3 linked regions of the Homo sapiens genome follow. The protein of the gene in region 2 purifies or fractionates together with the protein of the main gene of each other region. This does not show direct contact. Each region holds a gene or a part of one and is shown on either strand. Other genes may lie near its edges. The genes, in order: TIMM50, ZNF571 and HERC1.

The links.
Region 1: the proteins of ZNF571 (region 2) and TIMM50 purify together in Homo sapiens (co-immunoprecipitation; one large-scale study listed by IntAct). This does not show direct contact.
Region 3: the proteins of ZNF571 (region 2) and HERC1 purify together in Homo sapiens (affinity purification with mass spectrometry; 2 studies listed by BioGRID and IntAct, with this or other methods). This does not show direct contact.

The regions. Positions count from the first base shown.
Region 1 is NC_000019.10:39,483,768-39,487,417, reverse strand, and holds part of TIMM50 (mitochondrial import inner membrane translocase subunit TIM50), read right to left. Parts: exon of another isoform or gene 2,628-3,650; intron 2,172-2,627; exon of another isoform or gene 2,042-2,171; intron 1,875-2,041; coding exon 1,816-1,874; intron 1,731-1,815; coding exon 1,611-1,730; intron 1,232-1,610; coding exon 1,127-1,231; intron 1,022-1,126; coding exon 923-1,021; intron 1-922. UniProt on the Homo sapiens protein: Essential component of the TIM23 complex, a complex that mediates the translocation of transit peptide-containing proteins across the mitochondrial inner membrane. Has some phosphatase activity in vitro; however such activity may not be relevant in vivo.
Region 2 is NC_000019.10:37,591,982-37,596,272, forward strand, and holds the start of ZNF571 (zinc finger protein 571), read right to left. Parts: upstream 2,812-4,291; 5' UTR 2,760-2,811; exon of another isoform or gene 2,106-2,759; intron 1-2,105. UniProt on the Homo sapiens protein: May be involved in transcriptional regulation.
Region 3 is NC_000015.10:63,659,327-63,662,976, reverse strand, and holds part of HERC1 (probable E3 ubiquitin-protein ligase HERC1), read left to right. Parts: intron 1-955; coding exon 956-1,224; intron 1,225-1,951; coding exon 1,952-2,004; intron 2,005-3,040; coding exon 3,041-3,241; intron 3,242-3,650. UniProt on the Homo sapiens protein: Involved in membrane trafficking via some guanine nucleotide exchange factor (GEF) activity and its ability to bind clathrin. Acts as a GEF for Arf and Rab, by exchanging bound GDP for free GTP.

The sequences.
Region 1 (3,650 bases), 1.9 Mb from region 2:
GCCTATAGGCCCAGCTACTCAGGAGGCTGAGGTGGGAAGATCGCTTGAGCCCAGAAGGTTGAGACTGCAGTGAGCCATGTTCATCACACCACTGCACTCCAGCCTGGGTGACAGAGCAAAACCCTGTCTCAGAAACAAAAAACAAAACAACCCCCAGGATATTGGGGAGCTAATCACATAGACTTCTAGACCCAGGGCCTAGCACACAGAGAGGTGATTAGGAAGTTCCCTGGAGAGGGAGGTGGCCACTCTCGTGTTTAACCCCTGCCCAGGTGACTGTGGTATGTTGCAGGTTTAAGAACCTCTCACTCAAGTAAACAGGTGCAGACAGATCTGCAGCCACACCCAGGGAACCACACAGACAGGCACCCAGACACAGACCCTTCAAGACCCTCGATCACAGCCCACGTATTTTGGAATTTCCAAGAGCAACACAGAACCCCCACCCCGACACGACACAGACAGAAACCAACAGACACACAGACACTTGGAGCCAGACCCACAGAGGCCCATTCGCAGATCCGGACTCCTGAATACAGCACTGGCCACAGTAACAGAGCCCGGGTCAAACAAACCCCAACCAGTCTCATATGTACAACTATAAGCAAACCTTCCCAGAAACACTAAGTTACAGACACAGCAAGATAAAACCAGCTTCTAAATCGTACGACCTTACCACTAACCCCCAACTGTCTTCTTTAGAGAGACCCCATTTCCCCCCACTCCCACACCCAGATTCCAGGGAACAAAGAAGGGTGCAGATGTCTGGCCAAGGCTAGAGGCAGGCATGTGCCTGCCAGCAGGAATCGAATCTGGGCAGAACCATAAGCCAGGTGAGGCTAGGGTCAGAGCTGGGCCCTCCTTCCCTCAGGTGGTGCCAACTCCGCCAAATCCCAGAGGCCCACCCATGAACCCACGGCACCTTTACATGGTGTCCATCCATGTATCTTGTGGCGTCCCGGAATAGGCGGTAGGAGATGAAGCCATGGGGGTCCACACTATCAATGAGTGGAAACGCAGTCTGGGGGTGGGAAGGGAGCGAGAAAAGGTCAGGCTGAGCCCTGGTCCTCCAGATCTCTACGCCTCCCACCACACCAATATTCCCTCCCCTGCCCCAGAGCCTCACCATGCCAGTCTCTGACGTAAAGATGACAATTTCATATAAAGGGGCAAGCTGCTGGAACAAGGTCTCGATGCCTGGGCGCTTCTTAAACCTCCAGCCAGTGGCCAGCTGGGAAGACAGTGAGGACAGTGAAACACCAAGACCCAGAGGTCCTCAGAGTCCCCAAGAGGACAAAGATCCAGCCTGGGGGATTCCCAGAACAGAGTTCTCTCCCTCTGTCTCTGTGGCTCTTGGAGGTCAAGAAGTTCATAGGCTGTGACTGCGGGTCTGGCTCCTTTGTGGCACTTATAGCGTGCCTGGGCACACCTACACTACCCTACAGAGTGGGTGTTAGCATGACTGCCTTCTCCCAGCTGAAGAAAGCGAGGCAATGACAGGTGACATCTCCTCCCCAAGATCACATAGCACAGCCAGGGCTGAAAGTCCACCTCATCACAACCCCACTGCCCAGGTCTATCCCCAACCCACTGGGTTTCCCGGGACACACCGACCACTCAGGATGCAAGAGGACGCCGGTGAGCTCCAAAACGAGCGTGTAGGGTGGCTGGTAGTACGGTTCCTGCAGAGGGTCTGGGAGAAGGCAAGGGCTGGTGGGCTCGATGATCATCTGTGGGAGAGGGACAGGATGGGGGCGCTCAGACAAGGAGGCCAGGGCTGGAGACATGGGGACTGAGCCCAGGGCTTCTGCTCACCTGTCTATAATCTTTGAAATATTTGTATGTCCGGCGCAACTGCTGTACCAGAATTGGATCTAGGAGAACACCAGGCACAAAGAGATTCCACAATAAGCCGCTGTTCAACCTCCCAGACAAACCAGGGGTTTCTTATCTACCAGATACAAACAGGTCTGCATATCTGCCTGGTTTGAACCAACTCATTTCTAGGTCCAAAGATAGAAGGCAATGACATACCGCCAGATAGGAACACAGATTTATTTACTTGCCCTATTTTAAGCTGATACTTATATCCACATACTACCCCAGGTATGAAACAGAATGCTTATTACATTGGCCCACTTAAAACCCACATACAAGGCCGGGCACGGTGGCTCACGCCTGTAATCCCAGCACTTTGGGAGGCCGAGGCAGACGGATCACGAGGTCAGATCAAGACCATCCTGGCCAACATGGTGAAACTCTGTCTCTACTAAAACAGTAAAAAAAAAAAAAAATTAGCCGGGCGTGGTGGCATGTGCCTGTAGTCCCAGCTACCTGGGAGGCTGAGGCAAGAGAATCACTTGAACCCGGGAGGTGGAGGTTGCAGCGAGCCGAGATTGCACCACTGCACTCCAGCGTGGCAACAGAGTAAGACTCCGTCTCAGAAAAAAAAAAAACAAAACAAAACCCACATACATGTAAATCTGCTGACATTACACCAGGGTATACATACTTTTTTAATAGAGACAGGGTCTTGCTCTGTTGACCGGGCTGGTCTTGAACTCCTGGGCTCAAGTGATCCTCCCGCCTTGGCCTCCCAAAGTGTTGGGATTACAGGCGTGAGCCACCACACCTAATTTATGCCACTGTATTTTGCCCACTTTGAATCACTAGGCTTCCAGATCTGCCCACTTTAATCCAGTGTGCTGAATCTAAACCACAATAAATATATAAACACATCCATATACCATAAAACAGTGGTTCAGAACTAGGAACAATTTTGTCTATCTGCCTACCCCTGGGAAATCTGGCAATGCCGGGAGATATAACCGGTTATCGCAATACTGGCATCTAGTAGGCAGATGCCCAGGATGCTGCAAAAATCCTTCAATGCACAGGGCAGTCCTCTATAATTATCTGGTCCAAAGCGTCAATAGGGCCAAGGGTGAAAAACCCTGGTTTAAGTGAATATATTGACTCCAGTTTACTTTCTCATTTTAACTTATTTTTTTTTAGAGATGGAGACTCACTCTGTCATCCAGGCTAGAGTGCAGTGGCGGGATCACAGCTCACTGCAGCCTGTAACTTCCAGGCTCAAGTGATCCTCCCACCTCAGCCTCCTGAGTAGCTGGGACCACAGGCACAGGCCACCACTCCCGGCTAATGAATCCAGTATAAAACAGTAAACTTACAAGGCTACCTACTTTAATACAGTATTTTTAGTGCAATACATGGGCCTGCCTCTTAAAAAAAACACAATATATTGGGCCAGGAGTGGTGGCTCAAGCCTGTAATCCCAGCACTTTGGGAGGCTGAGGCGAGTGACCACCTGAAGTCAGGAGTTCGAGACCAGCCTGACCAACATGGTGAAACCCTGTCTCTACTAAAACTATAAAAATTAGCTGAGTGTGGTGGTGTGCGCCTGTACTCCCAGCTACTCGGGAGGCTGAGGCACGAGAAATGCTTGAACCCAGGAGGTGGAGGTTGCAGTGAGCCAAAATTGCATCACTGCACTCCAGCCTAGGCAACAGAGCAAGACTATGTCTCAAAAAAAAATAAAAATAAAAATAAACCACAATATTGAAACCAGTTAGGCTAGTAAACATATACACTTTAAAACTGCAGATGTACCTGCCCAATTTAAATCAGCA
Region 2 (4,291 bases):
GCGCGGTGCCTCACACTTGTAATCCCAGCACTTTGGGAAGCTGAGGTGGGTGGATTACTCGAGGTCAGGAGTTGCAGACCAGCCTGGGCAACATGGTGAAACCCCGTCTCTACTAAAAATACAAAAATTAGCCAGGTGTGGTGGCACATGCCTGTAATCCCAGCTACTCGGGAGGTTGAGGCAGAAGAACCTTTTGAACCTGGGAGGTGGATGCTGCAGTGAGCTGAGATCACACCACTACACTCCAGCCTGGGCGACAGAGTGAGGAAAAAAAAATAAAGAATGGATCTTGGTATCAATCATAAGTGGACGTTATAACCTTTAGGTCAGTGCTTCTCAATCCTTCTAAAATTTTTCACGGTCATATCCCTAGGAACCTTTTTAGATACTTTTCTCTAATAGCCACCACTCTCATGAAATTTTATTACCATAGATATACTGTATATATGTTTATGTACTGTGGCCCTTTGGAGGACCACAGATCATTGTAATACCTATGAGTTTTTGTCCTCTTCCTTCTCAAAAACCAAGTTTCACCCACTTGGAAGGTGATATCCTCCACCCTCATTGAGAATGCATGCTTTAGGTGAAAAAAAGGAAAGGATTAAATGGACAGCATTTAAACACATCAATATGACATCACTGAAAGTGGGACATCAGACTGTAAGGGCCTCATGATGTGATGTAATAGGAAGTACACAGCACCAACTATGAATTAAAGGTGATTTAGGGAAAATCTGATCCAAATTCCATCAAACCTCTAGATCTAACTGCCTGTTTACAGAAATATGAAGGAACGGAAAACAAATTATAAGACAGTACAAAGAAGCAATTAGCTAAAAGCAGTATACAGAATATTCTACGGGACAGATGATCTAGTTTTTCTACAAATCAACAGCACCAATTAAACCAAAACAAAACACAGGAGGGAAACTATCATGCATTAAGTAAGTTTAACAGGTTTGGCCACCAAATGCAATGTGTGGACTCTATCTGGATCCAGATTTGAACACACCTATTGTAAAAATATGTCTTTGAAATAATTGGGAAAATCTGAATATGGGGGTATACAAGATTATGAAATAACCACCACGCTGTTACACCAACATAAGAAACAAATTTATTGTTTTAAACTTATTGTTAGTTTTTTTTTTTATGTTGGTATAACAGCATCATGGTTATTTTAAAATATAATGTCCTTTTTGGTAATATATGCTTATAAGAGGATAAAATACAATTTTGAAATACTATAGGAAAAAACGGGGAAGGATTGATACAAAGGTATTTACAAATGTTTTTAATTACAGCTAGGTGTTGAACATGTTGGGGTTCGTATTATTCTTTAGCCTGCTTGAAAACATCCACAATAAAGTTAAAATTTTAAAACTCTTCAAATTTCCCCCAGAAAGTACAGTTATTTTTCATCAAAACCTTAGACCAGGCCAGGCGCGGTGGCTCACGCCTGTAATCCCAGCACTCTGGGAGGCCCAGGCGGGTGGATCACGAGGTCAGGAGATCGAGACCATCCTGGCTAACACGGTGAAACCTCGTCTCTACTAAAAACACAAAAAATTAGCCGGGCATGGTGGCGGGCGCCTGTAGTCCCAGCTACTCGGGAGGCTTAGGCAGGAGAATGGCGTGAACCCGGAAGGCGGAGCTTGCAGTGAGCCGAGACCGCACCACCGCACTCCAGCCAGGGCGACACAGCGAGAATCCGTCTCAAAAAGCAAACAAACAAACAAAAAAATCTTAGACCAGAAAGGACTGCTGTATCATTGGGTGGAAAGGAGAGGTGTAGTGTGGCTGGGGAGTAGAGCTAAACTGATGATCCCATCCCCGCAGCATCATTTATGGGGTGCCTAAGGACCAGTCACTAGCATGGCTGGTTCTTCCTTAGGAAGATGTTGCTGGAGGTAGAAAACGTTTCGGAAAGGAAGAAATTTGAGGTTAGAAAGAAAACAGGAACTTCACACAAGACTTTCAGAAGTGCGATATTCTTTTCCTCTGGGTGCCTCTCTTGGAAAACGCAGAACCGAGAAAAGAAATAAGCATCATAGAACATCAGAGCTCTCGGAGCAGACGAAACAATTTAGGATAACACCAACCTCTAGAAAGGGATTAGTCTTCCCCACAGGGCTGTCAAGCTAGAATAGGACATCTTTAACAGTGGTCTTCTTCCTAAGACACTTCCAGGGGTAAAGCCTCACCATCAGGGAAACTTCAAAAAGAGCCTCTTACTCTGCAAAGAAACTGCAGCAGCTGTAACCGCACGATTCTCAGCTGGCTTAATGATGTCCGTGTCACACGAGGAGTACTGCGGCCCGGGAGGGGCCAAGCGCTAGGAGCATTAACAGGCGGCAGGTGAGCCCACCCCGCGGCCGCACAAGCGCACACGCACACGTCCAGGGCGGAGGAACACTACTAGTAACACCCGCCTCCTTCTAGCCTCCCTATCCCAAAGTTATGGTGCCGATTTTGTCCGCGGCAGGGGCTCCAGGGGCACACTCATAAATTCGGTGCGGAGGAACACAACTAGCAGCACCACACCCCCGCCACTGCCAGAACCAAAGTGACGGTGCCGACACCCCTCCGCAAGCGCAAGGCCGACTTCCATAAGTAATTAGCCAGAGCACCGTCCCGTTCCTGTCAGCACCGAGCCCCAGCCAGGACACCGGTATTCCCAGCACCATACAAGAACTACTTTTTCGATGAAGCAACCCAAAAGCTGCGAGCGGTTCCCGGTGAGGCCGCCCACTCACCTGGCCGGCGCAGACAAGCTCCGTGCGTCAAGACATAACAGCGTAAGTGTACGACGTTGCGCAGCGACGCGGGGGCCTTCGGGAAATGTAGTCTACAACTGGAAACCGGCCGGATCGTGTCTGCGCAGGCCCAGCAGCTAAGATCGGGTCCGGCGCTCCAGAACAGAACGATCCCTGAGGCTCCCTTGCTCGAACTGTGGGACTTACCCTACTATGGTCCGAGCCTACCCTATTTCATTATACTCAAGTAACGCCCCAGAAATTCCAGAGAATCTCACACAAAGAGGTTGAGTCTTGCCGTGGTGCCTTCAGGGGAATGTCATCCCGGGCTAGAAGAGCTGCAAAAGGCTGTCAGGTAAGGTCTGGATTTCTCTCTGACAGCTCTGGCCGTGACGCAGTGGCCACGATACCGGGTTGCTGCTCAACGGGGTTCGGAAGTGTGACGCATTCTTTGCGGCCATGTGTGTGTGTGTGCGTGTGTGTGTGGGTCTGTGCGCGCGCGTGTCCGAGTGTCCTCTGTGGGTGCAGAGTGGGTAGTGGCCATGCCTGTGTGATGTGCGTCAGATTATGCTTGAGGCTATTAGTGGCGCATTTAGTATTGTGTGCGGAAGGGTCTTGGGAATGGTTTGATTATAGCTTTGAGGGTGACTGATGTCTGTTTAATCAGATTCAGCCTGCGACTGAGTATCTTATAACCTGTAAGAAATTGATTTTTCTTTGCATGGTCATGAATTTAAAATAGATTCCCATGAAATTATATAAATGTAGTGAATGATTCATTGAGAGTTCGCCTGTGGCAGTGAATGTGGGGAAAGAAGTGTGTGAGCATAATATGGTGAGAATGAGCACGATTGTGTGCAGCGCTGTATTATAGTGATATCTCCTGGCTTCAGTTTTCTCACCTGTAAAGTGAGGGTGTCAGTCGTGTAACGCTTTGGAACAATGCTTTTTAATAGGAATTTCTGCAAAACTGAGTTCCATTTTTTATATCTGTGCTCTCCAATATAGTAGCCACTAGCTACATATGGCTATTGAGAAATTGAAATGTGGCTGGTTTGACTGAGGAACGAATTTTTTAAATTGTGTTCAATTTTAATAAATCTAAATGTAAACAGCTATATATGGCTAATAGTCTTCCTATTGAACAGTACAACCTGGAGCATTAATTTGCCTTCAAGATTTGAAGGGGGTAAAAACTTAATTCATCTAGCAAATATTTGAAAATGAAATTCTTAAAACTTCCTTAAATTTTTTTTTAAATTTGAGATGATTGTAGATTCATATGAGGTTGTAAGAAATAATAGAGACATTGTGTGTTATCTTCAACTTAGTCTTCTCCAATGACAACATCTTGCAGGACTGTAGTATAATATGACAACCAGGATGTTGACATTGATAGTCAAGATAGATCATTTCCATCACCTCGAGGATCTGTTGTGTTGCCCTTTTATAGACAAATGCACTTTCTTCCCTCTTGTTTGAAGATATTCGCGTCAACATTAATGATAATGTAGGCATACCTCATTTTATTG
Region 3 (3,650 bases), on a different chromosome or scaffold from region 2:
TGACTGCAGCGGGGGCTGCTCTGACTTATTTTCCTGCCCTCCTGTTCATATAGCTTACTAACAGCAGCCTTGCCTAGAGTTGAAACACTCTAAAAAGTCTTTTATCTCATCCTGAGGTTTGGGGATTTAAAGTTATGAGGTTACTTTGATACCTACAAACTAATAAGGAAAAGTCTCTCTTGCTTTCTCTGTGGGATTTTATTGTTTCTCTCCCCAGACAAGATGAATAGAGTCATACTGTGGTAATATTTGATTCTGATGTCAAAGATAAATTACAAAACAAGCATCAGGTTCCAGTAGACGTTGACAGGTTATATAACATGGCTGCTGTGCTCACATTGCTATCTGAATGCATGTTCTTCTCCTTCATAGGTTCCATTTAATCAATGTAATGCCTTATTCTAGGAACCAGTGCTCACCTAGATCTTGTAAATACCTCCATTTAGGGGCAAGGTACATGGTGGATTTGTATATACATTGGTTAGCATTACATTTTTGTAGTAGGGAGACCAAAAAGCTCATAGATGTAAGTCCTACAGGAAAGAGAATCTGCTATATAAATAAGTGAATCATAATGATTTTTCCCAAAAATTCATAAAGTAGGTATGCATTTTGTGACCAGATGAAAATTAGTTCTTTTCACTAGTGGAGTTTTTTTTTTAAAAAGCCTCATTTTGAGATAGGACAGATTGTCATGTTCATTAACTCTTCTCAGTAGGATACTCAGTTACTTGTATTATTGATATAACTTATTAGAGTGAGAGAGGGCAAAGAACACCTTCCGATTGTGTTATCTGAATTCTGATTTGAAAGAAATTTTTTATTTAGCATTAATGAACATGTTGGAAATATTCTAGCATATGTAATAAAGTAATTTAATATAAATAATCTACTTGGTACTTCTTGGTTTTATGTTAAATTGACTAATCATTTGGTATGAAATCCTTTTGTGCAGCATGTTTGTGAGTCTGAAGACAGGGAAGAAGTGGTGGTGTGTGAACTGTGTGAATGCAGCGTCGTCAGCTTCAATCAGCACATGAAGAGAAACCATCCAGGCTGTGGGCGCAGTGCAAACCGCCAGGGCTATCGCAGCAATGGTTCCTATGTGGATGGCTGGTTTGGCGGTGAATGTGGGAGTGGAAATCCGTACTACCTGTTATGTGGCACCTGCAGGGAGAAGTACTTAGCCATGAAGACCAAATCTAAGTCAACAAGTTCTGAAAGGTACCTTGAAATTGTGTAGATATCCAGACCTCCTGAAGATACCTCATACCTTAAGTCTTGGGAACTGTAGATTTTTCACGTGAGGAGTTACATTTAACCTTCCCTGAAATCCCGTGATTCTTACACTTTGGGCAGAAGGGATGGAGGGGTTTCAGAAATTCATGTTCCCAGGAATAATGGCATAGCAACATATCCTTCCCTGGAGTTTGACTGTGTTAACCTCTGACTTGTTGGCAAGTAATGGTCAGGACCCTTGCCTTAACCCTCAGGAGGCTTCTACTCAATTCTTTTCATTTGTATTTTCTACCATATTTCTGGCATTTTAATTAAGATCTTTTTCCTGATGAAAAAAACAGACTTTTGATTAAACGAGTTCCATAAAAATATTATCTCTTTACATCCTTAATCCCTAGAGAGTAGGTTTGTTGCCCTTAATTGTCAACTATTAAAATCTTTAAGGCTTTATGGAATAGAATTTGGTTAAAAGAGTTGTTTTAGGTAACCCAGAAATCTCCCCAGTAGTTTGGTAAAATAATCATTGATTTTGTAAGCATGTGTGTACCTACATACCAGCAGTTTTTATTATGTTAGCCTATAACATGAAACATACTTTTTTATTTTGTGCTGCTTTATTAATGACCTCTTAAAATGTTCTAATGACTTAATTTGCATCTTGGGGTACTAACTGTTTTATATAAAAATGCAATGTTCTTCATGTTTGGTGCAGGTACAAGGGACAAGCTCCAGATCTAATTGGCAAGCAAGACAGTGTGTATGAAGGTAGTTTGTTTTGAGAGCTTCTTTATTTTACATGTTTTTTTATATATCCTCTCTGCTTAACATCTGTTACTAAAATTCACCTTCGTGTGTGTGTGTGTTTGTATTTGTGTACATGTTAACTTAAATTTTCCCTTAAAAACTCAAGGGAATTTAATAGCAACAACGCTGGTTTAAAAGTCAAAGGAAAAGAACGTGGTTTCAAAGACCAACTTTACCACAGAATATTAATTTCTATTAGGTGTATTTTTTTTTCAAAGTAGGGAAAGGATGTGGTATATTTTGAATTTCCACCCTAATTGTGGAAAGTAAAAAATAAATAGAGATGAGCATTGATTTTTCTGGAGCACTCATTTTCTTGAAATAACTCATTCCCTAATGATTACAGACAGCTAAGAACTCTTTGTTGGACCCATGACAATATTTTTAATTAGTTTAAACCTCTATTACCAGCTGTAGCATTTGCTATTGCTGTCAACTTATTTAACTACATTGACTCCCTTTCCCTGAGAGTCTCACTTATGCTTCAGGAGTGCAGTTTGGTTAAGTTTTCAGGAGATGGTGCCATAGTTCATTATGTGGTCACTGGACTTTCAGTCCATCTGCATTTTATGTATGTATGTATTTATTTATTTATTTATTGTTTTTATTTCTTTGAGATGGAGTCTCACTCTGTTGTCCAGGCTGTAGTGCTGTGGCGTGATCTCAGCTTACTGCAGCCACGGCCTCCCAGGTTCAAGCAATTCTCCGGTCTCAGCCTCCTGAGTAGCTGGGATTACAGGCACACACCACCATGCCTGGCTAATTTTTGTATTTTTTGGTGGGGATGGGGTTTCATCATGTTGGCCAGGCTGGTCTCAAATTCCTGACCTCATGTGATCCAGTCGCCTCGGCCTCCCAGAGTGTTGGGATTACAGGCGTGAGCCATCGCATCTGGCTGCTCATCTGCATTTTAGATGTATTTTCAGAACAACCATTGCCAGCAGATTTATGTAATATTTAAATTCACATACTATACATTTATTTATTTAAATTCCAGAAGACTGGGACATGTTGGATGTTGATGAAGATGAAAAGCTAACTGGTGAAGAAGAATTTGAATTACTTGCTGGACCGCTTGGTTTAAATGACCGGCGCATTGTACCAGAACCAGTTCAGTTCCCTGACAGCGATCCACTGGGAGCATCAGTAGCAATGGTCACAGCCACCAACAGTATGGAAGAGACTCTGATGCAAATAGGTAAACTGAAATCCTGATTTGCATTGATTTTATAGCATCTACTATAATTTGTTTCTTAGATAGGTAAATAATAATAATAAAGTAAAAGTAAATAAGACTAATGGTTCAACATTATCTCACCCCAACAAGTCTCTTTAGCCAGTTGTTTTAACATTTTGAAGGTATAATGTGGTATTAAGTTTTGGCTGGGCTTGGTGGCTTATGCTCGTAATCCCAGCACTTTGGAAGGCTGAAGAAAGAAGGTCGCTTGAGGCCAGCAGTTCAAGACCAGGCTGGGCAACATGGTGAGACCCATTTCTATTAAAAAAATGAAGAAAAGTAGCTGGGTGGGTGGTGTGCACCTTTAGTCCCAGCTACTCAGGAGGCTGAGGCAGAAAAATTGTTTAATCCCAGGAGTTTGAGGTTATGG